3 separate regions of the Homo sapiens genome follow, and regions 1 and 3 are each linked to region 2. The links come from fine-mapping of genetic effects on gene expression. A gene starts in region 2. Each other region holds a variant in brackets. All regions are shown on one strand. Distances are between the middles of the regions. Region 1 overlaps TRPC4AP (transient receptor potential cation channel subfamily C member 4 associated protein). Region 2 holds the start of TRPC4AP (transient receptor potential cation channel subfamily C member 4 associated protein). Region 3 overlaps AHCY (adenosylhomocysteinase).

What was found.
Region 1: its variant is fine-mapped to the expression of TRPC4AP in whole blood (INTERVAL, PIP above 0.99).
Region 3: its variant is fine-mapped to the expression of TRPC4AP in whole blood (TOPMed, PIP above 0.99).

The regions. Positions count from the first base shown.
Region 1 is chr20:35,052,936-35,061,114 of GRCh38, forward strand. It overlaps TRPC4AP (transient receptor potential cation channel subfamily C member 4 associated protein), which reads right to left. Exons shown (of 19, transcript NM_015638.3): 4 at 4,579-4,636; 5 at 2,041-2,096. Among named protein-coding and RNA genes, the nearest start is that of TRPC4AP, 36 kb to the right of the region's middle. RefSeq lists an enhancer at 2,953-3,062. The variant C/CAAAAAAAAAA (reference allele first, on the strand shown) is at 4,050.
Region 2 is chr20:35,089,336-35,097,514 of GRCh38, forward strand. TRPC4AP (transient receptor potential cation channel subfamily C member 4 associated protein) reads right to left here and starts at 3,472. Exons shown (of 19, transcript NM_015638.3): 1 at 3,279-3,472. The coding sequence starts at 3,446. RefSeq lists an enhancer at 1,158-1,717 and silencers at 3,244-3,373, 7,007-7,136.
Region 3 is chr20:34,273,643-34,281,821 of GRCh38, forward strand. AHCY (adenosylhomocysteinase) reads right to left here. Exons shown (of 10, transcript NM_000687.4): 10 at 6,626-7,523. The coding sequence ends at 7,392. Among named protein-coding and RNA genes, the nearest start is that of AHCY, 26 kb to the right of the region's middle. The variant G/A (reference allele first, on the strand shown) is at 4,030.

The DNA.
Region 1 (8,179 bases), 36 kb before region 2:
GTGTTTGCAACCCTGAGAGCCCCAGGTTCTCTACATTAACATGGAATTCAGCCAGATAGCACATAATTGAACCATATCGCCCTATGTTCCTCAAATTTTTTAAAAAATTTTATTTAAAAATACTTTTAGTTGATATATAATAAAGGTACATAATTTCAGGGAGCATATAATTTAATACATTCGTATAATTTATAAAAATCAAATCAATGTACTTGGGATAGCCATCAGCTTAAATACTTGTCTTTTCTTTATGCTAAGAACCATTCAAATTCTCTTCTAGCTATTTTGAAATGTAAAACAGAACAGAATATTATAAACTAAGTCACCCTTACTGATTTATCTAACACTAGGTCTTATTTATCATCCCATATATTTGTACCCATTAATCAACTTCTCTTCATACATTTCATTTTTTTAACTTAACTGTTTTATTGGAATGTCACTGATTAACATTAGGTATCATGATTTTAAAACGGCCTCATAAAACTAGTGACTATATGGAGTTGCCAAAGATGGAGTCATTATATTATACACTGTCTTCTTCTATAAGGACAATTTCTTATTGGCCTTAGTTGCAAGAACTGTGCATTTCCTGAACAATTTGAAATTTTATCTTATAGATCTCCCTGTGCCTATCTCTGTCATTGGCTATACATGGCTACCGAGCACTTAAAAGGTGGCCAGGCCAAACTAAGATGTGCTCTGGGTGTTCAAACAAGAGGAAAGAAAAACAAAACACACACACACATTGGATTTTGAGAGCTCAATACGAAAAACAAGTAAATATCTCATTAATAATTAATTATACTGATTACATGTTAGAATGACAATATTCTTGATACACTGTGTTAAACAGAATTTATCATTAAAATTAACTTCACCACTTCTTCCTACTTTTTTCTTTAAAAAAATGTGGCTACAAGGAAATTTAAAATAACCCAAGTGGCTTGCATTATATTTCAATTGCACAGCACTATTATAGATGCTGAATTACGTAAGTGTTCAAACATATTCCCCTATTTGTGTTGGCTGCTAAGAAGCTTGAAGCCAAATTTGTGCCCATCCGTAATACAGATGATTTTATGGTCTTCATTTTTATATCAGCCCAATTCCTGGCTATACGTTATGTCCCCACCTTTATCTTCTTCTTTCTTACCTGCTTCTAAGTTCGTGATCTTGGTAGATTTTGCATACACCCACAAGATGTCAGAAATCTTATTTTGAATGAGGCAAGAAATGAAATGGAGCTAAATGTTTTTTTTTTTTTATTTCCACAGCATACAGGGTTCACATTTATAATAGCGCTCGTCTCATTCTGCCATGTATTATGATTCACAGTTTACACAGTTTATCATAAGTTTCTAAAAGACAGGTACTGTATCTTTTAAAAACTAACATTTATATATTGTTTTACAAAGTGTTTTCACATCTACTATCTCATTTCTCACAATAAATCTATGATGTTAATACAACTGCTAACTGCATTCTATTGGTAAGAAACTACGGCTTGGGAGGTGTACTAAGCCAAGGGCCAGAACACAAAATCAGGTCCTAACACTAAGTGCCATCCTCTTTTGTTTCTACCAGATTGCTTTCTTTATTCACCATTCTTCCTGGCTCAGTGGTCAACCTAGTAGAGTCCTGCTCAATATATGGGCGGGGCTTCTGGTTCTCATTTTGTTTTCTAACAAGGAAAATGAAGAAATAGGCATAATGGAGTTAAAATGAGTCTTAAAGGTCACAGTCTGCCAACACTTGTCACCTTTTGACAAGTGTCCAGTTTCTACTTGGACAGCTCTAAGGCCAAAGGAGTTTACTACCTGCTGCAGCAGTCCTGGCTCTTAACAACTGCTACAAAATTCTGCCTCCCCGTAATTTCTACCAGTTAGTCCTGATTTTCAGGCACACATAAAATAAGCCCGATTCCCCCACTGTCTGAAAGCAGCTCTTATGTCTGCCATTCTACTCGAATATTCCCATCTTAAACATTGCAGACCTGGTAGGGGAGATAAACAGAGCCCCAGTGGCAGGGGTACTTACACAGACACAGGTATTATACAGGATACTCAAGCAGTCCTTGGACATTTCATCACTTACTGAAAGTGAAAGGGTAATGACTGGTTATTTTTCTCAATGAAAAGATAGTACAACAGTTACCACATTTTTTTCAGCATAAGAACTGTTATAATCCCCTCCAAGATGATTATTTTTCCTTTAATATACTTCTTCCAGCCCCTGTCTACCAAAGGTTTTCATAGTGCCCATCAGAACCTACAAGCCCATTTGCATATTGCTTTTGGTTTGATACAGCAGCTGTTTTCTTATTATGCTCCACAGTCTTCATAATTTCAACCTGTTGTTGTGCCATCATTTAATAAAGCCATTTTCCCTTAATGTCTTGCTTAGGATATATCTAGGATTTGTTTTTTTTGTTTTTTGTGTTTTTTGGCTATTTAAGTAGACCACAAATGAACAACTTAATATATATGTGTATCCTTTTCATGTTTGTATTAAACTAGTTCCTCAAGATACATTTTCAAAAGTAGAACTACTAGAATCTAAAGTATAGGCATCTTTTTTTTGTTCATTTGTTTTGGTTTTTTAAATGAGGTCTTACTCTGTCACTCAGGGGCACAATCACAGCTCACTGTAGTCTCGAACTCCTAGGCTCAAGCAATTTTCCCTCCTCACCCTCCCGAGTGGCTAGGACTGCATGCGCGTGTACCACGCCTGGCTAAAAGTTAAAAGTATAAGCATCTCAATTGCTCTTGTTATAAATTTCCATTGAAAGTTCTACTGCAGCAAACAAAAATACCATTTTTATCAGACTCATTAACTGAGCATTTCTTTTTTTGTTGCTGTTATCTGTGTTGGGCAAATGGCTCTTAATGTCTGATCTATTACTAATTCTTATAAAGAAACTACTACTTCCCTGTGAGCAGGAACAGGAAAGTAGCATAAAAACGAAACTTAATTTTCATGAGCCCAAAACCAAAAGATGATGAAACTGAGTATGAACCATGGACAAAGTGCTTTATTTGGCACTTGCTTCTATTTTTTAAAATTGTTTCCATTCACTCCTAAGCTGCTAGGAATGCTAAAATGCTAGGTCTCCTTCTCAGATCCCAATGGGCAGCCCTGCCAAGCTAGCTTGACTAGATGGGTTGTCTCATAATCCTGAGACAACGCAGACGCTCTGCATCCCTTATCACCACCTTTCAACCTACTGGGGCTCTGTGATTGATTTATTTAACGACTTCAGAGCAGGGTGAAACACTGCTCTGCATGTCTCACTATATATCTCACTATTTCTAGATCCTCCATTTTTAAAAGGAATTGGGATTCACTCATTCATCAAGTATTGTTCAGCATCTACTCTAGAGCAGATACAGTGGTGAGGGAAAAAAAGTCTCAGCCTTCATGGAACCTATAAATCTAGTGGGAAGAAGAGAGACTAAACAAGTGCACCAACAAATAATTACAATATGCTACTTGCTATGAGGGTACATAGAGAACATGAAAGACCAAGTTAGAATACACAGCTGAGACATTAAAAATGAATATAAATCCTCTTAATAACCACTACTGCATGCACAAATGAGGCCTTATACAGTATGTCGTATTGGGGTAAAAAAAAAATCTTTTAAATTAAAAAAACGCAAAGTTGGTAGGAGGGCATTCACCAAACATTAACTGAAGTCATCTCTGGCTTTTAACACCAGAGTAAAGTGCATTCACTTTTTTATTTTAAATTAAATACCGAAGCTGGGTGCGGTGGCTCATGCCTGTAATCCCAGCACTTGGGAGGCTGAGGTGGGCAGATCACTTGAGGTCAGGAGTTCGAGACCAGCCTGGTCAACATGGTGAAACCCCATCTCTACTAAAAAAAAAAATACAAAAATTAGCCGGGTATGGTGGTGGGCGCCTGTAATCCCAGCTACTTGAGAGGGTGAGGCAGGAAAATCACTTGAGCTCAGGAGGCGGAGGTTGCAGTGAGCCAAGATCATGCCACTGCACTCCAGCCTGGGCAACAGAGCGAGAGACTGTCT[C/CAAAAAAAAAA]AAAAAAAAAAAAATTGAATACCTAAAAAGAATTATTTGTAACGTGTAAGTTATAAAAAATAATAATAGAATATTACCCATATATCTACCACCCAGCTTAAGAAATAGTGCATACCAAAACACTCTGACTTTTTACCATTCACACCCTGGTAATGCCTGAACTTTTTACAAAGAGCATGTATCACCTTTCTAAAAAAAATAGTTTAAAAAAAATAAAACAGAGTGATCTTACTCTCTCAGCTAGTTATATGTGAGAAAGAAGAATTTCCCAAGGAAACATAGAAGCTGGATCACAGGACTATCAAAAGTACAAAGATGCATTCTCTTAACCCAGATCTGAATTTCTACGCAGTACAGAATGAATAAAGACAGCTGCTTAGCTGGGGGAGGAGAGAGCAACCTGTAGCTAAATGTAAGACATGTCCTTACTATTAAGAGTTAGGAAGGGAAGGAAGAAGGCAGCTGCTGGGAACTGCCACCGTATCGGCAGGTTGGAAAACAAGGACCAGTAGCTAATAGGTATACTTACTTTTCAGTTTCTGTCCCCGGATAGAGATCGTAGGCCTCATAAGAATTTCTACAAGAAGCTATAAAAAAAATTAGATAAAATCTTCAAAATTAATTCAAAGTATAACTTATAAAATGATTTTGCCATAACCATTCATGGCCCATGTATCTGTCACAGTATTACAAGACCCTTTTGTTCCAGGAGGCAGTTAAGGTTCAGTAAGGCTCCTGACTGCAGCAAGTCAGGAGACCCAGGTTCTAGTCCCAGCTTGGCCACCTACTTGCCCTTCTCTGGCCTCAGCTTTCTCATTTTTGAAAAGAAGTATTTTAGATTAGGTAATCTCTGGGATCTAATGCGGCTTTAATTTCTGAAAAGCTGCAGAACATTATTACTATGATTCTTCTGTTTAAAGAACATTTGTAAGTTTATTTTAAAAGGACTCAAAAGATACACCATAAATTGTTAACACTGATTTCTACAGGTTTGGGGGTTATATGCATGTGTTTTTTATTTTACATACTTTAATACAATTTTGCACAAACTGTTTAAAATAAGCATGTATTTAAAAATTCATTCTACGGAGAGAAAGGATAGTTGATAAAAGGGTCAATCCATTAGAAAGATATAACAACTACAAATATGTATGTACCTAACAATAGAGCCCAAAAATACATGAAACAAAAGCTGGCAGAAATGAAGGAAACAGATAATTTAAAAATAAAAGTTGGACACGTTAATAACTCTGCTTTCAATAATAGACAACTAGGCAGACGAGCAAAGAAATAGAAGACTTGAACACAACGAACACATATATTCTAACAGACATCTACAGAACACTCCATGCAGCAAGAACAGAGTATACATTCTACTCAAGTGCACATGAAACATTCTCCAGGACAGATCAAATTTCAGGCCACTGAACAAGCCTCAATAAATTTAAAAGCACTTAAATCACATACAGTATGTTGTGTGGCCACAATGGAATGAAATTAAAATCAGAACGAAATTTGGGAAATTCATGAATTATATGGATAATTTTAAAAACCCATCCTAAATAATAATGGGCCAAAGAAGAAACCACAAGGGGAAGTATAAAGTATCCAAGAAGGATGAAAATACCAAAACTTATGATGTAGCTAATGGAGTGCTCAGAGGGAAATTTATAGCTGTAAATGCCTATATTAAAAGAAAATTCTTTTTTTTTTTTTTTTTTTTGAGACAGAGTCTTGCTTTGTCTCCCAGGCTGGAGTGCAATAGCCCTATCTCGGCTCACTGCAACCTCCGCCTCCTGGGTTCAAGCGATTCTCCTGCCTCAGCCTCAGAGTAGCAGGGATTACAGGTGCCTGCCACCACTCCTGGCTACTTTGTGTATTTTTAGTAGAAACGAGGTTTTGCCATGTTGGCCAGGCTGGTCTTGAACTCCTGACCTCAGGTGATCTGCCCACCTTGACCTCCCAAAGTGCTGGGATTACAGGCATGAGCCACCGCACCCGGCCAAAGAAAATTGTTTCTAATCGATAACCTAATCTTCTACCTTAAGACACTGGAAAAAGAGCAGACTAAACCCAAAGCAAGCAAAAGGGAGAATAAGAGTTGAAACAAATGAAACAGAGAATAGAAAATAACAGAAAATGAACAAAACCAAAAGCTGGCTCTTTGAAGACTGGCAAATTCTTAACTAGACTGACCAAGAAAAAAGGAGAGAGGATACAGATTACTATACTCAGAAATAAAGGAGAGGGCATTACCACCAACCTTATGGCAACAAAAGTGATTATAAGGAACTACTATGAACAACTGTATGCCAACAAATTAGATGACCTAGACGAAATGGACACATTCCTAGAAAGACATAAAACTAAAAACTGACTTAAGAAGAAACAGAGGCTGAGCATGGTTGTTCATGCCTGTAATCCCAAGACTCTGGGCGGCTGAGGTGGGAGGACTGATTGAAGCCAGAAGATTGAGACCACCCTGGCCAACACAGCAAGACCCCATGTCTCTACAAATAAAATAAATTAGCTGGGCGTGGTGGTACGCCTATAGTTCCAGCTACTTGGGAGACTGAGGCAGGAGGATTACTTGAGCCCAGAAGGTTGAGGCTGCAGTGAGCTATGATCATGCCAATACACTCCAGCCTGGATGGCAGGGTGAGACTCCATCTCTTTAAAAGAAAAAAAAGAAGAAGAAGAAGGAAGAAGAAGAAAGAAGAAGAAATAAGAAGAAGAAGAAGAGGAAGAAGACTACGACGAAGAAGAAGAAGACGAAGAAGACGACGAAGACAAAGAAGATGAAGAAGAAGGCGAAGACGAAGACAAAGATGAAGACGAAGAAGATGAAGACAAAGAAGACGAAGATGAAGATGAAGAAAAGATGAAGAAAAGACGAAGACAAAGATGAAGATGAAGAAGACGAAGACGAAGAAGACAAAGACGAAGAAGACGAAGAAGAAGAAAAAACAGAACATCTGAACAGCCCTATAACAAGTAGAGACTGACTTAGTGATTTAAAAAAAAACAAACAAAAACAACAATAACAAAAAACTACCCATAAAGAAAAACCTTGGACATGATGGCTCCATTGGTGAACAATACAAGACATTTAAAGAATGATCAATTCTTCACAAACTCTTCCAAAAAACAGAAGAGAAGGAAACATTTCCCAACTCATTCTTTGAGGCGAGTATTACCCTGATACCAAAACCAAACAAAGACATCACAAGAAAACTACAGATGAGTATCTCATGCATATATACACAAAAATCCTGAAAACCCTAGCAAACAAAATCCAGACACATACAAAAAGGATTATACTCCACGCATGATGGCTTATGCCTGTAATCCCAGCACTTTGAGACGTCAAGGCAGGAGGACTACTTAAGCCCAAGAGTATGCAACCAGCCTGGGCAACATAGTGAGACCCTGTCTCTACAAAAATTAAAACCAAAAATTAGCCAAGCATGGTAGCATGCTCCTGTAGTCCCAGCTACTCAGGAGGCCGAGATAGGAGGCTCGCTTGAGCCCAGGAGAGGCTGCAGTGAGCTGTGATCACACCACTGCATTCCAGCCTGGGTGACAGAGAGACCTTGTCTCCAAAAAAAAAAAAAAAAAAAAAAAAACAAGAAAAGGATTATACACCATGACACTATGACAAAGTGGAATTTATCCCAGGAATGTAAGGTTGGTTCAACATATGAAAATCAATATAATACACCATATCAATAGAATAAAGGACAAAAGCCAAAAGCCACACGGTCATCTCAACAGATGCAGAAAAAGCGTTTGGAAAAAAAAACCCAAAACACTTTCATGATAAAACAATCAACAAGGAATAGAAGAGAACTTCTTCAGCCTGATAAAGGGCTTTTATTAAAAAACCCACAGCTAGCATCACGCTTAACAGTGAAGACTAAATGCTTTCCCATTAAGATGAGGAAAAAGACAAAGATGTCCACTCTCGCCACTTCAATTTAACATTGTACTGAGTGTTCTAAGGCAACTAGAGAAAAATAAAAAAAGAAATTAAAGGCACCCAAATTGGAAAGGAATAAGTAAAACTAACTATTTACAGATGTCACAATCTAGAATACAGAAAATTCCTAAAGAATCCACTCAAAAAAACT
Region 2 (8,179 bases):
CCCACCTCGGGTTCCTGAGCAGCTGGGACTACAGGCATGCATTTCCACACCTGGTTAATGTTTTTTTTTTTTTTTTTTGTAGTAGAGCTGGGGCTCCACCACACTGCCCAGGCTTGACTCAAACTGGCTCAGGTGATCATCCCATCTTGGTCTCCCAAAGTGCTGGGATTACACACATGAGCCAATGTACCTGGCCTATATTATATATTTGTTTACTACAATGAAAAAATTTTGGCTAGGCGCAGTGGCTCACACCTGTAATCCCAGCACTTTGGGAGGACAAGGCAGGGGGATCATGACGTCAGGAGTTGGAGACCAGCCTGACCGACATGGTGAAACCCCATCTCTACTAAAAATACAAAAAGTAGCCAGGTGTGGTGGCACACGACTGTAATCCCAGCTACTCAGGAGGCTGAGGCAGAATTGCTTGAATCCGGGAGACGGAGGATGCAGTGAACCGAGATTGCGCCACTGCACTCCAGTCTGGGCAACAGAGCGAGACTCCGTCTAAAAAATAAAAAATAAAAAATGTTTAAATCTGGTCTTTTCCTACTATACCACATGCCATAACAGTATAAAAATATGGGTAATCTGGGCAACAGAGCAAAACCCTGTCTCTACCAAAGATACAAAAATTAATGGGGTGTGGTGGCACACGCCTGTAGTCCCAGCTACTAGGGAGGCTAAGGTGGGAGGATCACTTGAGCCCAGGAAGTTGAGCTTGCCACTGCACTCCAGCCTGGGTGACAGAGCAAGATTCTGTCTCAAAAAAAAAAAAGGGTAAGCAAATAACTTATTCTGCAGGATGGGAGAGAGGAGCGGAAGGGCACAGCATGGAATAAATTAAAAAAAAAAAAAACTAAGAAAAGAAATATTTGAAAGATGAAGGTCCCCATTTTATCCTCACTATAGCTCCAGGCAGGGGGTCTCTACTTCAACTTCTGAAATAGCTCCCACACCTATATACAACCATCAGTTACCACAATAACCTGCCTTGCTTTTGTGGCTCCAGAATATTCCAGCAGCCTTGTATCTGGTGAGCTTTTTTTTTTTTTTTTTGAGATGAAGTCTCACTATGTCACCCAGGCTGGAGTGCAGTGGCGTGATCTCAGCTCACAACCTCCACCTCCCAGGTTCAAGCAATTCTCCTGCCTCAGCCTCCAGAGTAGCTGGGATTACAGGTGCTTACCACCACGCCCGGCTAATTTTTGTATTTTTAGTAGAGACGGGGCTTCGCCATGTTGGCCAGGCTGGTCTCAAACTCCTGACCTCAGATGATCCACCCGCCTCGACCTCCCAAAGCACTGGGATTACAGGAATGAGCCACTGTGCCCAGCCTCTGGTGGGCTTTTCTAGGCTCCTCCCATTCTAAGTCATTCAGCACTGGAAACAAATTAAGTTGCCTAAATTGCCTCATTTATCATGCTAAAGAACTTCTGTGGCTCCCTATTATTCTCAGAACACTGATTATCAGGATGGGTGTTTAGGAACATATCATCTAACCTCTCTGAGCCTCAGTTTCCTCATCCATATTAAGAAATGAGTCTTGAAGCATAACTCAAAAGCTTGAGGATTAAAGATAACATATGCCTTGTACCGTACTTTTTCTAAAGGTTATGTGCTCACTAAAAGTTAGTCCTCTTTCTGCCTGTCTCTACACACCCAGCTCGGTAAGGTATCTTAGCTTAAGAAGGAAAGAGCAAGTATTTCTAGGATTTTTTTTTTTTTTTGAGACAGGGTCTCACTCTGTCAATCTCCGCCTCCCAGGCTCAGGTAATCCTCCCACCTCAGCCTCCCCACAGGCACACACCACCACCATGCCCGGCTAAATTTTTGGAGACACAGGATTTTGCCGTGTTGCCTGGGCTGGTCTCGAATTCCTGGATTCAAGCGATCTGCCTGCCTCGGCCTCCCAAAGTGCTGGGATTACAGGGTCTTAAGTCAGGTCTTAAGAACACAAGGGGGAAAAAGGCTGCTCATCTATGGTTGTGTGATGGCCAGGAAAACATTTCTCACTCACAACTGCTCCTTTCGTCCACAGTCCTCCATACACACAGACCCCCTAGCCTTTATTTTATTCTATCCTTTTCGTCATTTGAGGAAGTGATATTCAAATTAAATTTAAATAAAGTTACACTGTGAAAAGTCTCACTCCCATTTTCTCCCCCTTTAGCCCAATTCCCACCTCACTCCCACCAACCACTTTATCAGTTTCTTGAGTATCCTTCAAACTTTTTATGAAAAAGCTGTCTTTAAATAAAGCTAATGTTTTACAGGTGTTAGCAAGGTTCGGGGTGGGGGAGGGTGGAAGAAGTAGTGGACTAGGTCCTATTCAACCTGGTTTACCCTAAAGCAGTGTCCTTCGCTCACTCAAAAATAACAATAATCATATGTTGGGCACCTGTTATAAGTCAGATGCTTAATATTAACTACCTTCAGCCCTTAGTATGCACCAGAAATGCACTAATGCTTTACACAATTGCCCCCTTTGATCTCCACAACAATCTTAAAAGGTAGGTTACTAATTCTCATCTTCATCTTACAAGTGAGGAAACTGAGGCACAGAAAGGTCACCTGCCCAAGCAAGAGAGAGGAGCAGGGCTTTGAACCCAGGCCTGACTCCAGAGTCCCTCTTAACCGTGACGCTCTACACTAGCAAACCAGATATAGTCTCTGCACCCGCTGGAACTCAGCCTAATGTGGGAGACGGGCGAGAAAAAGGCAGACAACAAAGAAATACGAAATTATAGACTAAGAAAGTAATGTAAACGAAACGAATTCGCGGCTGTGACAGAATAACAATGGGGACCTACTTTAGAAAGGGGAAGGAAAGAGTGTCAAGGAAAGGCCTGAGAAAATGACATTTATGAAATGCTCGGGAACCATTTGGGGGCTGCAATGATGACCCCCTCCCCCACGCCCAATACACGGGATAAACTCGAGGCCCACAGAGGCTAAAACAAACACGACAGGGTCCCCCAGACGTGTAGACGTGGCGCAAAGAAGGGAGGATCCAGAAACTGGGCCCAGGGTTCGTACACGCCATCAGTGTCCACAGCAGCCCAGCCCCGCTCGGCCCCTGACAAGGGACATCAAGCCAGCTGCTTCCCACGGCCCCGCTGCAGCTGAGAGCGTCCGGGCAGCTCACAGGGAGGCCTTCCGGCCAGCCAAAAGGGCTTTGGCCCGTCCAGCGGCGGCCTGGAAAGGCCTCTTCCCCGGCCCCCCGCCAGCTCCCGCCTGGTCCGCCCCGCCCCGCCCCTCCTGGTCCAGCCTCGTACCTGCACCGCCCGGACCAGGCCCCGGCCGGTCAGCTGGCCCTGCCGCAGCTGCAGCAGAATGTTACCAGGCCGCGGCCGGCCGCCCCATCCGCCCCAAGCCGCCACTGTGGCTGCCGACCGTCTCCCTCGGCCGGCTCCAGACCCAGCCGCTACCGGCGCCGCCGCCATGTCTCCTCGTCGGACAAACAGGAAGCAAGCGGCCTCGGGGCCGCGGAGATTTCTACGGGGCGGCGGAGGGGTCGCCGCAGCGCCCCCAGTGGGCCGTCGGCGGAGGCGCAAGCCGCGTGGCAGGGACCGTGTGCGGCGTGGAGGCTACTGGGAATTGTAGTCCTGCGCGGCAGCGGGGTAGGTGGGAAAAGAGATGTGGCCTTTCCTGCACTGCCGGTTTCTCTGGCCCCCGGGCCCAGCATTTCGGCGAAATCTCCCAAGGTCCACATTCTCCCATTTCTCTCGCCGATTTGGGCAGGATGCAGGCAGCTGGCCAAGAAATGATCCTGGGCTTCAGGTCAGGAGTCAGGCCCTCGAGTCCGCTTCCTGCCTGCTTCTCTCTACACGTGACTCACCGCGGACATCGACCAAGTCATCGCGCTCTGCCACTGCGCCTGTGTCCTCGTCAGGTCACTCCATCTATAGATTCTGGGAGCCTGATCAATCGTAGTTCCTGGGGCTTTCTCTGCGCCCGACACCAAACCATGTCTAGGGGAAAGGGAGGGTGTCTGGGATACAGTGGTGAGCAGAACGGCCTGGGATCCTTTATCACGAAATGCAGGTTACAGGGGAAGACAGCAGATCCATACACAAAGAAACGCAGTCTCAAACTGGATAAGTTGTGTAACTGGGTAGGTTGTTGTGAAATTAAATAATGGAAGGGAAAGGGATTAGTAAATTGTGACATCATATTCTCTGTCAGATGAAAACCCTGTCCTAATTTCTATCCACCAGATAGCATGTTGTCTCTAATACTCATTTTTTCAGCTAACTTCTGTGGCAGGATGGCACTGACTCCCCCCACCCAACACACACACACTTTTTCCCTTCCTAGCAGGGGGCCTGTAATAAAAATGAAAGAGGAGAGCTAAGTGTGATGTAACAGGGAATGGTGAAGATTGTGACTCATAACTAAGATGACTGTAACTTACTGCTCAAACCAGAACACTTTAAAGAATGAAAAGACACAATAAATAATTACACCGGGACGGTAGGCATAAAAGTGACTCTCCCAGGTGAACTGGCACTATGGTTACCATCCTCACACCCCATCTAAAAGGAGTAGACTCACCATCCATCTTCATAGAACTAGAAAAAAGAATCCTAAAAATCATATGGAACCAAAAAAGAGCCTGCATGTCCAAAGCAAGACTAAGCAAAAAGAATAAATCTGGAGGCATCACATTACCTGACTTCAATCTATACAATAAGGCCATAGTCACCCAAACAGCATGGTACTGGTATAAAAATAGGCACATAGACCAATGGAACAGAATAGAGAACACAGTATAAAACCAAATACTTATAGCCAACTGATCTTCGATAAAGCAAACAAAAACATAAAGTGGGGAAAGGACACCCTATTCAACAGCTGGTGATAACTGGCAAGCCACATGCAGAAGAATGAAACTGGATCCTCATCTCTCACATTATACAAAAATAAACTCAGCCGGGTGCAGTGGCTCACACCTGTAATCCCAGTGGCTCACACCTGTAATCCCAGCACTTTGGGAGGCCGAGGTAGTCAGATCATGAGGTCAGGAGTTCGAGACCAGCCTGGCCAACATGGTGAAACCCCATCTCTACTAAAAATGCAAAAATTAGCTGGGCGTGGTGGCATGCACCTGTAGTCCCAGCTACTTGGGAGGCTGAGGCAGGAGAATCACTTGAACCCTGGAGACAGAGGTCACAGTGAGCCGAGATCACGCCACTGCACTCCAGTTTGATGACAGGATGAGACTCCATCTCAGAAAAAAAAAAAAAAATAGCCAAAGAAGTTACAGTCAGGAGATATTTTGTTCCCTATAGAAACTGAATATAACATCTTAAAATTTGTCCCTGAGTGTTGTTTCTTAGAAACTCGAACCCCCACCAAATGGATCTGCTGATAGGCAAACTCAGATAAGGGAGAGCTGAGAACTAAACTTTGACTTCTATTTTTTGTTATAAATTTCTTCCTAGGGGGCCTGGAGGAGGACACGACCATAAGTCAGAGCTAACATTCTTTTCTGCAGATCCCAAATTTTTAGACAAAGCTTTACCTCCTTAACCAATTACAAGTCAGAAAATCTTTGAATCCACTTGTGGGCCCCTGGTTGGAGATGTCCTGTCTTTTTAGGTGGAACCAATATACAGCCCCTATGTATTGATTTATGACTTCGCCTGTGGCCTCTGCCCTCCTGCCATTAAAAACCTGTAAGCCGGCTGGGCGCGGTGGCTCACACCTATAATCCCAGCACTTTGGGTGGCCGAGGCAGGTGGATCACCTGAGGTCAGGAGTTCGAGACCAGCCTGACCAAAACGGCAAAACCCCGTCTCTACTAAAGATACAAAAATTAGCCAGGCATGGTGGCACGTGCCTGTAATCCCAGCTACTCGGGAAGCTGAGGCAGGAGAATCGCTTGAACCCAGGAGGCAGAGGTTGCAGTGAGCTGAGATTGCACCACTGCACTCCAGCCTGGGCGACAGAGCAAGACTCTGTCTCAAAAAAATAAAATAAAACCCCTGTAAGCCATAAGGGAGTTCAGGTCTTAAGCATAAGCTGTTTGATTCTCCTCGCTTGGCACCCTGCAGCAAGTGCAATAATAAATGCCTCACTTTCTCTTGCTGTAATCCCAATGTCAGTGGCTTTGCTGCACCAGGTAAGCAGCCCTCACTTTGGTTCAATAACAATACTTTTCATAACTTTTTGCACCAGCTATGTATCATTTCTAGATTCAAGAAAAAAAAGTCTTCTAATATGTGAAATTAACTTTAAAAAGACATAAAAAGAAAAGGCATTTCCAGGGATACAAACAGGGCATTGGTGAGCTGTCCGGGCAGCAGCCAGCCTTACCAGGGAATCCACAGCCCAGGGATTCCACCCAGAGCTCTTCCTGAGGCATATGGTGATGGATATTCTCACCCTTGTCGCGGTGAGGAGACAGGATCCTGACTAATTTCACAGTTCACATGGCCCTCCAGGTTTCCCTTGGCACTCATCATGCTAGGGACAAATCTTCCCACCTCAGCTTTGACCCAACTGCAAATGTCACTTTCCATTCCTCAGTTCCTATCTTTGTCAGTCTAGCCTGGCCCAGGCATTCACCAAAGCTGGGTATTCACTGGGTCAAAAATGACAACCTCAAATTCAGTCCTTACAGATACCATGTGACCATGAAGTAAGGGGACATGTTTCCAGAAACCTCTGTGGAAAGACACTCTTTTCCACTTCACCTCTGCTCTGCCAGCCTTTTCCGTAGAAACTAGCTGAGGCTAGGCGCGGTGGCTCAGGCCTGTAATCCCAGCACTTTTGGAGGCCGAGGCGGGCAGATCACGAGGTCAGGAGTTCGAGACCAGCCTGGTCAATATGGTGAAACCCCGTCTCTACCAAAAACACAAAAATTAGCTGGGCGGGGTGAAGCGCGCCTGTAGTCCCAGCTGCCCTGGAGGCTGAGGCAGGAGAATTGCTTGAACCCGGGAGGCGGAGTTTGCAGTGAGCCGAGATCGCGCCACTGCACTCCAGCCTGGGCCACAGAGCAAGACTCTGTCTCAAAAAAAAAAAAAAAAAGCTGAGTGTCTCTCACCACCAGAGGGCGAAGTACCTCTCCCACCAGAGGTCTGTTGATGTCAATTTTAATCAGCACTAGAAAAAAAATGAAGCTCCCAAACTGGCTAATTTTTTTTCCACCGTAATCCCAAATGGCTTAACCAAACATGATGATGCTATTCAGAGAACATTAACTCTTGTAAATAAATCGCCAAACTCATCTCAATTGGGCAGACAGATTTTCTGGGACTTTTTTTTTTTTTTTTTTTTTTGAAGTCTTGCTCTGTGGCCCAGCCTGGAGTACAGTGGTGTGATTATAGCTCACTGCAGCCGCCAAGCTCCTGGGCTCAAGCAATCCTCCCGCTTCAGCCTCCCAAAGTGCTGGGATTACAGGCATGAGTCATGGCACCCTGCCAAGAAGTCACTTTAATCAAAGCAACTGGCACTGTTATATCAGGCCATGGTAACAGCTGTCCCATGCAACTATGCATTGTCCTGTGGTGTCATTTTTTACAGTGATTTTTTTTTACATTACATTTCTAATGTACAACCTCTCCATGATTTGTCTTTTAAATGTTTGTTAAGTACTATCTTATGTGCCAGGCACTGTTATAGGTGCTGTGGATATTGTGCTAAATAAAATAAACAAAATTTCCTGCCCTCATGGGGCTTATACTTCTGGGTAAGATCTACCCTTTATTGAGCACTTACCATTGGCCAAGCACTTTCTTTGCACTATCTTATTATTCTCGCAGCATTTTTGGGGAAGTTTTTCAAATCTACAGAAAGTTAAAAGATACACCATTAACACTCATATACCCTTTGCTTAGACTTGTCAGCTACTAAAACTATATTTTATCTTTCTCTCTGTGTATATATACACATATATGTACATATATGTGTATATATACATATACATATATACACATATGTACATATATGTGTATATATACATATACATATATACACACGTGTATATATACATATACATATATACACACGTGTGTATATACATATACATATATACACACGTGTGTATATACATATACATATGTACACACGTGTGTATATATACATATGTACACACGTGTGTATATATACATATGTACACACGTGTGTATATATACATATGTACACACGTGTGTATATATACATATGTACACAC
Region 3 (8,179 bases), 820 kb before region 2:
CATTTGCGAAGAGGACAGGATAGGCAAGAAAAGAATTTAATTTGAACTGAATTAGCCAAACCATCTGTAGTCAATTTAAGATGAGTCTAGAGTAGACGAGTTACCCTTTCTTCTTCCATGTACCAGGAGTAGAAGGTGTGTATGTTGGGAGCGGGTATTGGGTTCAGGAAGGAGGAAAAGGAATGACTTTTGTTTAATTGGTAAAATCCTTTAAAACTGTCAAATGCTTTCATGTTCATTACAGAAAGGAGGTTTCTATTAATTGATTGCCTGCAGAGAAATAGAAGCTCTCCCAGCTGGATATACGAGTTGTAGAGTCTGGGAGGTGGCACCTTCTAATGGTGAGAATGATGATATTGACAATTATTATGCCTTCTTTTTGCCTGGGGAGCCCAGCAAATAGCTTCATTGGAGTCCAGAGGCTTTCACACTTTCCAGAGCTCCTCTTTAGAATTCGTGGACTCTATGGCTGTATAGACTACCAGAGCAATAGTAAATATTGGGCTGCTGCTCACTGCTCGAGGCCTGTGTGGTCTGCAGTTATCATAGTGCCATACTAACAGTGATTATTTATTGAGCAGCTACTTCATGCCAGGCATGACACCAAGACTATCAAATTAACGTCTTGACCTAAGTATCACTGTAAATAAGAGAACTGGGGCTCAAAGATGTTAAGCAATGTGTCTAGATAGACCTCACACCTCAGCATGGGGATTCAGATCCAGCCCATGTCATTCCAGAGCCTAGGCCCTTAAACACCAGGCCACTGAAAACCAGGCAGAGGGGACTCTGCCTGCGTAGAGCCAACACCTTGCAAGAGACTCGGCCCAAGAGGTGTACCCAACAGACTCCCCATGTGACTCCCCAGCTCTCTAATGAGACCTTGTCAACACCACCCCAGGGAGTAGTCTCACTAGTGGAGCTTCTGGAGAGAAGCAGCTGCATCTTCTTTTCTTGGGTCAGTACTTACTCAAGAGGCCATGAGAGGTACAGGATAGGGCACTGATAAAGAATCAAGAGGGGCTGGGGTATGGTGGCTCACTCCTGTAATTCCAGCACTTTGGGAGGCCGAGGCAGGAGGATTGCTTGAGCCCAGGAGTTTGAGACCAGCCTGGGCAACATGGCGAGCCCCCATCTCTACAAAAAAAAATTTTAAATTAAATTAGCCAGGTGTGGTGGCACGCGCCTGTAGTCTGAGCTATTTGGGAGGCTGAGGCAGGAGGATCGCTTGAGCTCGGGAGTTCAAGGCTGCAGTGAGCCATGAATGTGACTATACTCCAGCCTGGATGACAAAATGAGACTTTGTCTCTTTAAAAGAGTCAGGTGGTACAAATTCCTGTTCCAGCACTGCCCCTCACTGCTGTATGACCTTGGGCAAAATTCCCTCCCAGCTGCACCATGAAGGGATTGGACAAGGCAGTCTTGGGGGCGAATCCAGTCCCCTTCATGGTGCAGCTGGGAGGGGACCTGGCCCAAGTTCTCTATTTTCTTTTTTTTTTTTTTTTTTTGAGATGGAGTCTCGCTCTGTCACCCAGGCTGGAGTGCAGTGGCTTGATCTCCGCTCACTGCAACCTCCGCCTCACGGGTTCAAGCGATTCTCCTACCTCACCCTCCCAAGTAGCTGGGATTACAGGTGTGCTCCACCATGCCAGGCTAATTTTGTATTTTTAGTAGAGACGGGGTTTCACCACGTTGGCCAGGCTGGTCTCGAACTCCTGACCTCAGGTGATCTGCCTGCCTCGGCCTCCCAAAGTGCTGGGATTACAGGCATGAGTCACCACACCCGGCCCTCTGTTTTCTTTTCTCTGTTGTTTTTCTATAACCTGGTGTCTTCAATGTCTTCTCCACTACAGCGAGACTCAGAATTGTCAGACAGCAACCTATTGAGATGGGTTTAGGGAAAGAAGGTAACTTTCTGGGGGGTTCATTTCACTAAAAAGGGGCTAGATCCAGTTAGTGTAAAACATGTCTAGATTCAGCTACTCAAATATTCTCTGGAATGTGTCACTCTCTCTCAATTGTGTTGGCTTTATATCTTTCTTTTTTTTTTTTTTGAGATGAGCCCTTGCTCTGTCCCCCAGACTGGAGTGCAGTGTGTGATCTCAACTCACTCTAACTGCCACCTCCCAGTTCAAGTGATTTTCCTGTCTCAGCCTCCTGAGTAGCTGGGATTACAGGCGTGCATCACCATGCCCGGCTAATTTTTTTTTTTATTCTATTTTTTTTTTAGTAGAGCTAGGGTTTCATTATGTTGGCCAGGCTGGTCTCAAACTCCTGACCTCAGGTGATCTGCCCACCTTGGCCTCCCAAAGTGCTGGGATTACAGGTGTGAGCTGCTGCACCCGGTCTGTGTTGGCTTCATCCTAAGGCAAGCTGGCCTTCGTGGGGGCAAAGGAGCAGCTACAGGCTCACATTCCTTCCAATCCTGGCAGCCCCACTGAAGACAGTACCTTTTCTGTTTTTAGGATAGCTGGGTCTCTTTTACAGTTGCCACCTCCACCTACTGTGCAACAGGCACAGAGGCAAATTCTACACTTGGTGTGCACCAGCAGCATTGGGAAACACTGGGGACGTTGTTAAAATGCACACTATAAGGCCTCACCCCAGACCTACAGAATCAGGACTGGGGATAAGCCCTCCAGGTGTTTCTGAGGTTTGCTCAAGTCTAAGAACCACACTGGGTTATGGAACAGGCTTTAGGGGAATAAATACAAGCCAGCAGTTAGTAGGAAAAGCAGGTGCAGGTCCCCACGAGAGACAGGTTGAGGAGGGGCATTCAGTACACAGTGTGGGTGGATACTCTAGGGAGGCACCCACCTCTCTATTTCTCTCCCTGGTAATAGGGCAAGTATGACAACACTGAGCAGGGTTGATCAGACTATTACGATGCTAAGCAGTGTGAATTTAGGTTCCAATAACTTATGGAAGTTGTCAGGAAAAGCCCACCACCCAGCACCCGGGGGTCTTTAGAACCCTTGCAAGGTTGTAACTCCTCCCACCAGGGAGAAGCAGCCTCTAGTCCTGGGGGAGTCTGAGTCCAAGCAGCCCACAGAGTGAATCCTGGAGTCGCTCCTGCACCACACCAGATTTCTAGCAAAAGTCCTAAAGTCCCGGGATTGAGTCCAGACCAACTTGAGCCACATGCCTGTCTTGGAGCCAGTTTGGAGAAGCAACCAACCTGGAACTGATCGAAGCCCGCCCGGACCACTGCACACCCCTGGCTGCCTCTACCACCTCAAGCAGGTTTCCTAGCTCGGTCCCCTGGGCTAGTCCTGAGTAGGTCTCAGGGATGAGAATCCGGATTCCTGGGGTTTCCTGGAACCTCAGACTCCCAAAGCAGGGCTGTCCCAACAGCAGCTTCCTGGAGTCCTCACTGGCATCAACAGTCCCCGTGATCCGGCTTCCTGGAGTCCTCACTGGCATCAACAGTCCCTGTGGATCCTTCCTGGGTTTTAGTCCATGCTACTTCCAGACCCTCTAAGCTCATTATTTCTGGACTGAAAAGGGATCCCAGCACCTCTAGCCTAGGAGGCCCCTCCCACCACAGCCAGTCACACAGAGGTGGGCATGGGGCTTGGTGTGCAGAAAGAGCCCTGACATGGACTCGGGTGGGACACCCAGACCTGCAGAGTGACCCGGATAAGTCACAACTTCTCTGGGCCTCCGTTTCTCCACATACAAATGCTGGGTTCTGCTCCACAGGACTCTAAGGTTCTCCCTTAGTTCCAAGATCCTATGACTTCTCTAATTTTCTAATTTCCTAAGTATCCTAAATTCCCTGCTCTCAAAACAGCTCCCTCCCACCACCTGGTGTCTCATACAGCCCTTAAAACTCAGCATAAAGGCCGGGCACAGTGGCTCATGCCTGTAATCCCAGCACTTTGGGAGGCCAAAGCAGGCAGATCACGAGGTCAGGAGATCGAAACCACGGTGAAACCCCATCTCTACTAAAAATATAAAAAATTAGCCGGACACGGTGGCGGGCGCCTGTAGTCCCAGCTACTCGGGAGGCTGAGGCAGGAGAATGGC[G/A]TGAACCTGGGAGGCGGAGCTTGCAGTGAGCCGAGATCGCGCCACTGCACTCCAGCCTGGGCGACAGAGCAAGACTCCATCTCAAAAAAAAAAAAAAAAAAAAAAAAACTCAGCATAAAAACTCCTCACTAATGTTCTATCATTCGAGCGTCAAGACAGCCATCTGAAGTAGGTATTTCTGTCCCTGCGGGGAACACAGTGAGTCAGCAGCAGACCCAGGGCTCCTCTTTCCAAAGTTCAGTCCACTGCTCCATAAACAGCCACTTTCCACCAACCACAGGCCTCATCTTCCCATCTCTTTCCTGGAAAAAATCCAACCAGGGCTAGGCCTGGATACTGCAGGACCCTTGGCCAATTCCTTCTTTCTCCATGAAGCTTTGATGGGGGCAGCCCAGATATCAGGAGTGGAGTATTGGGGTATTGGGGGTGGAGCAGGAGACACATCATCTTTCATTGTGGGTACCCGGTCAGTGTCACACATGTGACAGATTAGCAGACCTGAAATCAGAGGTAAGTCTGAGACCAGATGTGAAAAGAGGGGCTGTGTTTTCTGAAACAAAAGGTTCTGGGAACTGACAGGACACCTCCGAACAGGAAAGGAAGAGGCTGGCATAACAGAAACCAGAACTCCTGGAAGAAGGGAGGTGGGGGGCTACATGGGATCTGGCAGGAGGAAGCATTCTGACAGCATTTCCCACATCCAGGAGGAGACACGCTAGAGGGAAGGGAGCATGCGCACACACAGGCAGCGGCTGTGCAGCAGAAGGCGTTCAACCTCTCTGGCTTAGAAGAACAGCAGCCTCTCCTTTTTTCTACTGTGAAGTTATCGTCCCAGCAGCCACCCCAGTAGAAGAACTGAGGCAGGGCTCTGGGTAGCCCTCTGGTTTACAGTTCCAGAGTTCCTGATCTAATGTTGGGAAATCTGAATCCAGGCTCCCTTCCTAAACCTGACCTTGCTGGTGTGGAAGGGGCTTGGATTTTGGTCTAAGTCCTACCACATACAAAAGTCAGCTCATGCTTATGGCTCCTCTCAGAGCCTCAGACAGGGGAATTCAAGTCTCTATGAGGAATAAATAAGACCATACCTTTTTACATATGATGTAAAGATACATCATATCTTTAGAACTTAATGTGAGTCCCCACTTAGTGCACTAAGGCCAGGCATGGTGGCTCATGCCTGTAATCCCAGCACTTTGGGAAGCTGAGGTGGGCAGATCACCTGAGGTTAGGAGTTCAAGACCAGCCTGGCCAACATGGTGAAACCCTGTCTCTACTACAAATACAAAAATTAGCCAGGTGTGGTGATGAGCATCTGTAATCCCAGCTACTTGGGAGGCTGAGGCAGGAGAATTGCTTGAACTCAGGAGGCAGAGGTTGCAGTGAGCTGAGATTGTGCCACTGCACTCTAGCCTGGGCGACGAGAGTGAGACTCCGTCTCAAAAAAAAAAAAAAAAAAAAAAAGGCCAGGCACGGTGGCTCACGCTTCTAATCCCAGCACTTTGGGTGGCCGAGGCGGGTGGATCACGAGGTCAGGAGATCGAGACCATCCTGGCTAACATGGTGAAACCCCATCTCTACTAAAAAAAAATACAAAAAAAAATTTGCCGGGCGTGGTGGCGGGTGCCTGTAGTCCCAGCTACTCGGGAGGCTGAGGCAGAAGAATGGCATGAACCTGGGAGGTGGAGCTTGCAGTGAGCTGAGATAGCACCACTGCACTCTGCTGCCTGGGCAACAGAGCGAGACTGTCTAGAAAAAAAAAAAAAACAACAACTCTAAAAGATGCTTGCACCATGCCTGTCACCCAAGTGTGCAAGATCTCAGCCTGTTTTGACCACTTGTGTTGTGGTCAGTTGGGAGTGGGTGCCCTGTCATTTGGTACTAATAATAGTTGAAGTACCAAAGTCTGTACACTATTTACAGCAGAGTCACATCACATACACACGTAACTTATGCAACTTAAACTATGTGCACTCAGGGAAAAAGAAAAGGTAAGAATTAATTGTCAGGCAGGACACACTGATGAGCATCTAAGCCAGAGTGAGCAGTTTTCAGCCCCTCATGCCTCACTGATCATGGGCCATTGAGTGTGACTTAAGGGTTTTACTTGACATTGTATCTTTAGAACTTAATGTGAGTCCCCACTTAGTGCACTTTTAAAAATACTGCAAACAGCCGGGCACAGTGGCTCACGCCTATAATCCCAGGCAGATCACTTGAGGTCAGGAGTTCAAGATCAGCCTGGCTAACATGGTAAAACCCCGTCTCTACTAAAAATACCAAAAAAAAATTAGCTGGGTGTGATCTCAACTACTCAGGAGGCTGAGGCAGGAGGATCGCTTGAACCCAGGAGGCGAAGGTTGCATTGAGCTGAGATTGCATCACTGCACTCCAGCCTGGGTGACGGAGCGAGACTCTGTCTCAAAAAAAAACGAAAGAGTTCCCTCTTCACTTTACCCATTCTTTCAAGCCTAAGGACCACAGACAGCCGTTCCACTGCAGAGTACCCCGTGAATGCTTCATCAGCACGACTATAACCCCCTATTCATGGCATACATTGTTGGCAGAGGATTATCTATAAAATAAAGGCTCAAAATTCTTCCAGGCACCAAGATTTTTATTTACCCACCTTCCTGCTTTCTTTTAACATTATAGGCCAAATTATTCTCTTTTTGACCCAGGGTTGTGAAAGGAACCATCTGGTTATAAAGTGGTGGCAGATTTCACGAAATCTGCCTGCATTCATGTTTTTCTGGCCCCTCTCAACCCCTAGCTGTCACTTCTCTGTTCTTTCTCAGTTGCCCCTTAACAGTCTATTCTAACCCCTGTAAAACAGGGACTAAAAGTACTAACCTCATTGTAATGAGGTTTAAGAGAAGGCCCAGCACTAAGCCAGGCTCTCAGGAAAATTCAAACAACAGTTCCTCTTTGCCCTTCAATATAGCCCCTTCTCATCTGTCATGGGCTGAAGAACCACTGGACCTGTAAACCAAGCACACAGGTATAAGTCCACAGACCAGGTGAAGGCCTAGATGGCAAAACACATGGGCTTTGTGACTCCACTACTGACTTCCAGGCTAAGGAAGGACTGACTTAGTGAGCTGTTCCAAGACCACTGAGCTCATGGTTCCCTGTGGCTGGGACCTCCATCATGACCGGGGCTTGAAGAGGGTACTCTGTTCCCGCTGCCACATTTGGAACAGTATGACGGCTGCAGCAGAGGCCAAAAACTAAGTGATCAGCCCCAGAGAGTCGATGGGGGACACTGACAAACCAATCACAAAGTTGGTGCCATTAGCTCTTAGGGAGGAGAGGTGGGGCCTGGGCAAGGACAGCAGCTGGAGGGTGAAACGCAGACCTGGCTCTCAGTAGCGGTAGTGATCCGGCTTGAAGGGGCCATCACAGGACATGCCCAGGTACTGGGCTTGCTTCTCAGTTAGCTTGGTCAACTTCACATTCAGCTTGCCCAGGTGGGCTTCAGCCACTGCCTCATCCAGCTGGGGAGAAACAAAGGAAGACCGGGAATCAGTGCCATTTTCTGGGACCCCTACACGCGTCTGGCTGCCAATAGAGGCAGAAGTGTTCTGTTAGGGTTTCTGCCATGTGTGGTACTCATGTTAACTCTTTCTATCCTCACACCCAGCCTCAGTTAATGTGTTGTTTTGGCTGCCCAGCCCCCCTCAAAAGGGAACCATGCCACACCCTCCCCTACATGTGGCTTGACAGGACCATCAATCACATCTCCTTCCTCATTCTTCAACTCAAGCAGCTAACCAAAATGCTTCTCTGGAATTGATCTATGCACAGGACATATTTTCCATGACAGGCAGAGACAAGGTGCTCCAACCCCACTGGGATTCCTAAACAGGGAAGGGTATCTATCAATCTCAGCTCACCAGTTCCAAGTCTATTTTACAAGTGAAATGAAGATAGATCCGAGAGACAGAAGGACAGAGCCATGATGACACGGAATCCTAGGTTTCCAGTGTTTGGATCCGAGAATAAAGTTCTTTTTTTTGTGACAGAGTCTCATTCGGACGCCCACGCTGGAGTGCAGTGGCACGATCTCGGCTCACTGCAACTTCTACATCCCAGGTTCAAGTGATTCTCCTGCCTCAGCCTCCCGAGGAGCTGGGATTACAGGCGTGCACCA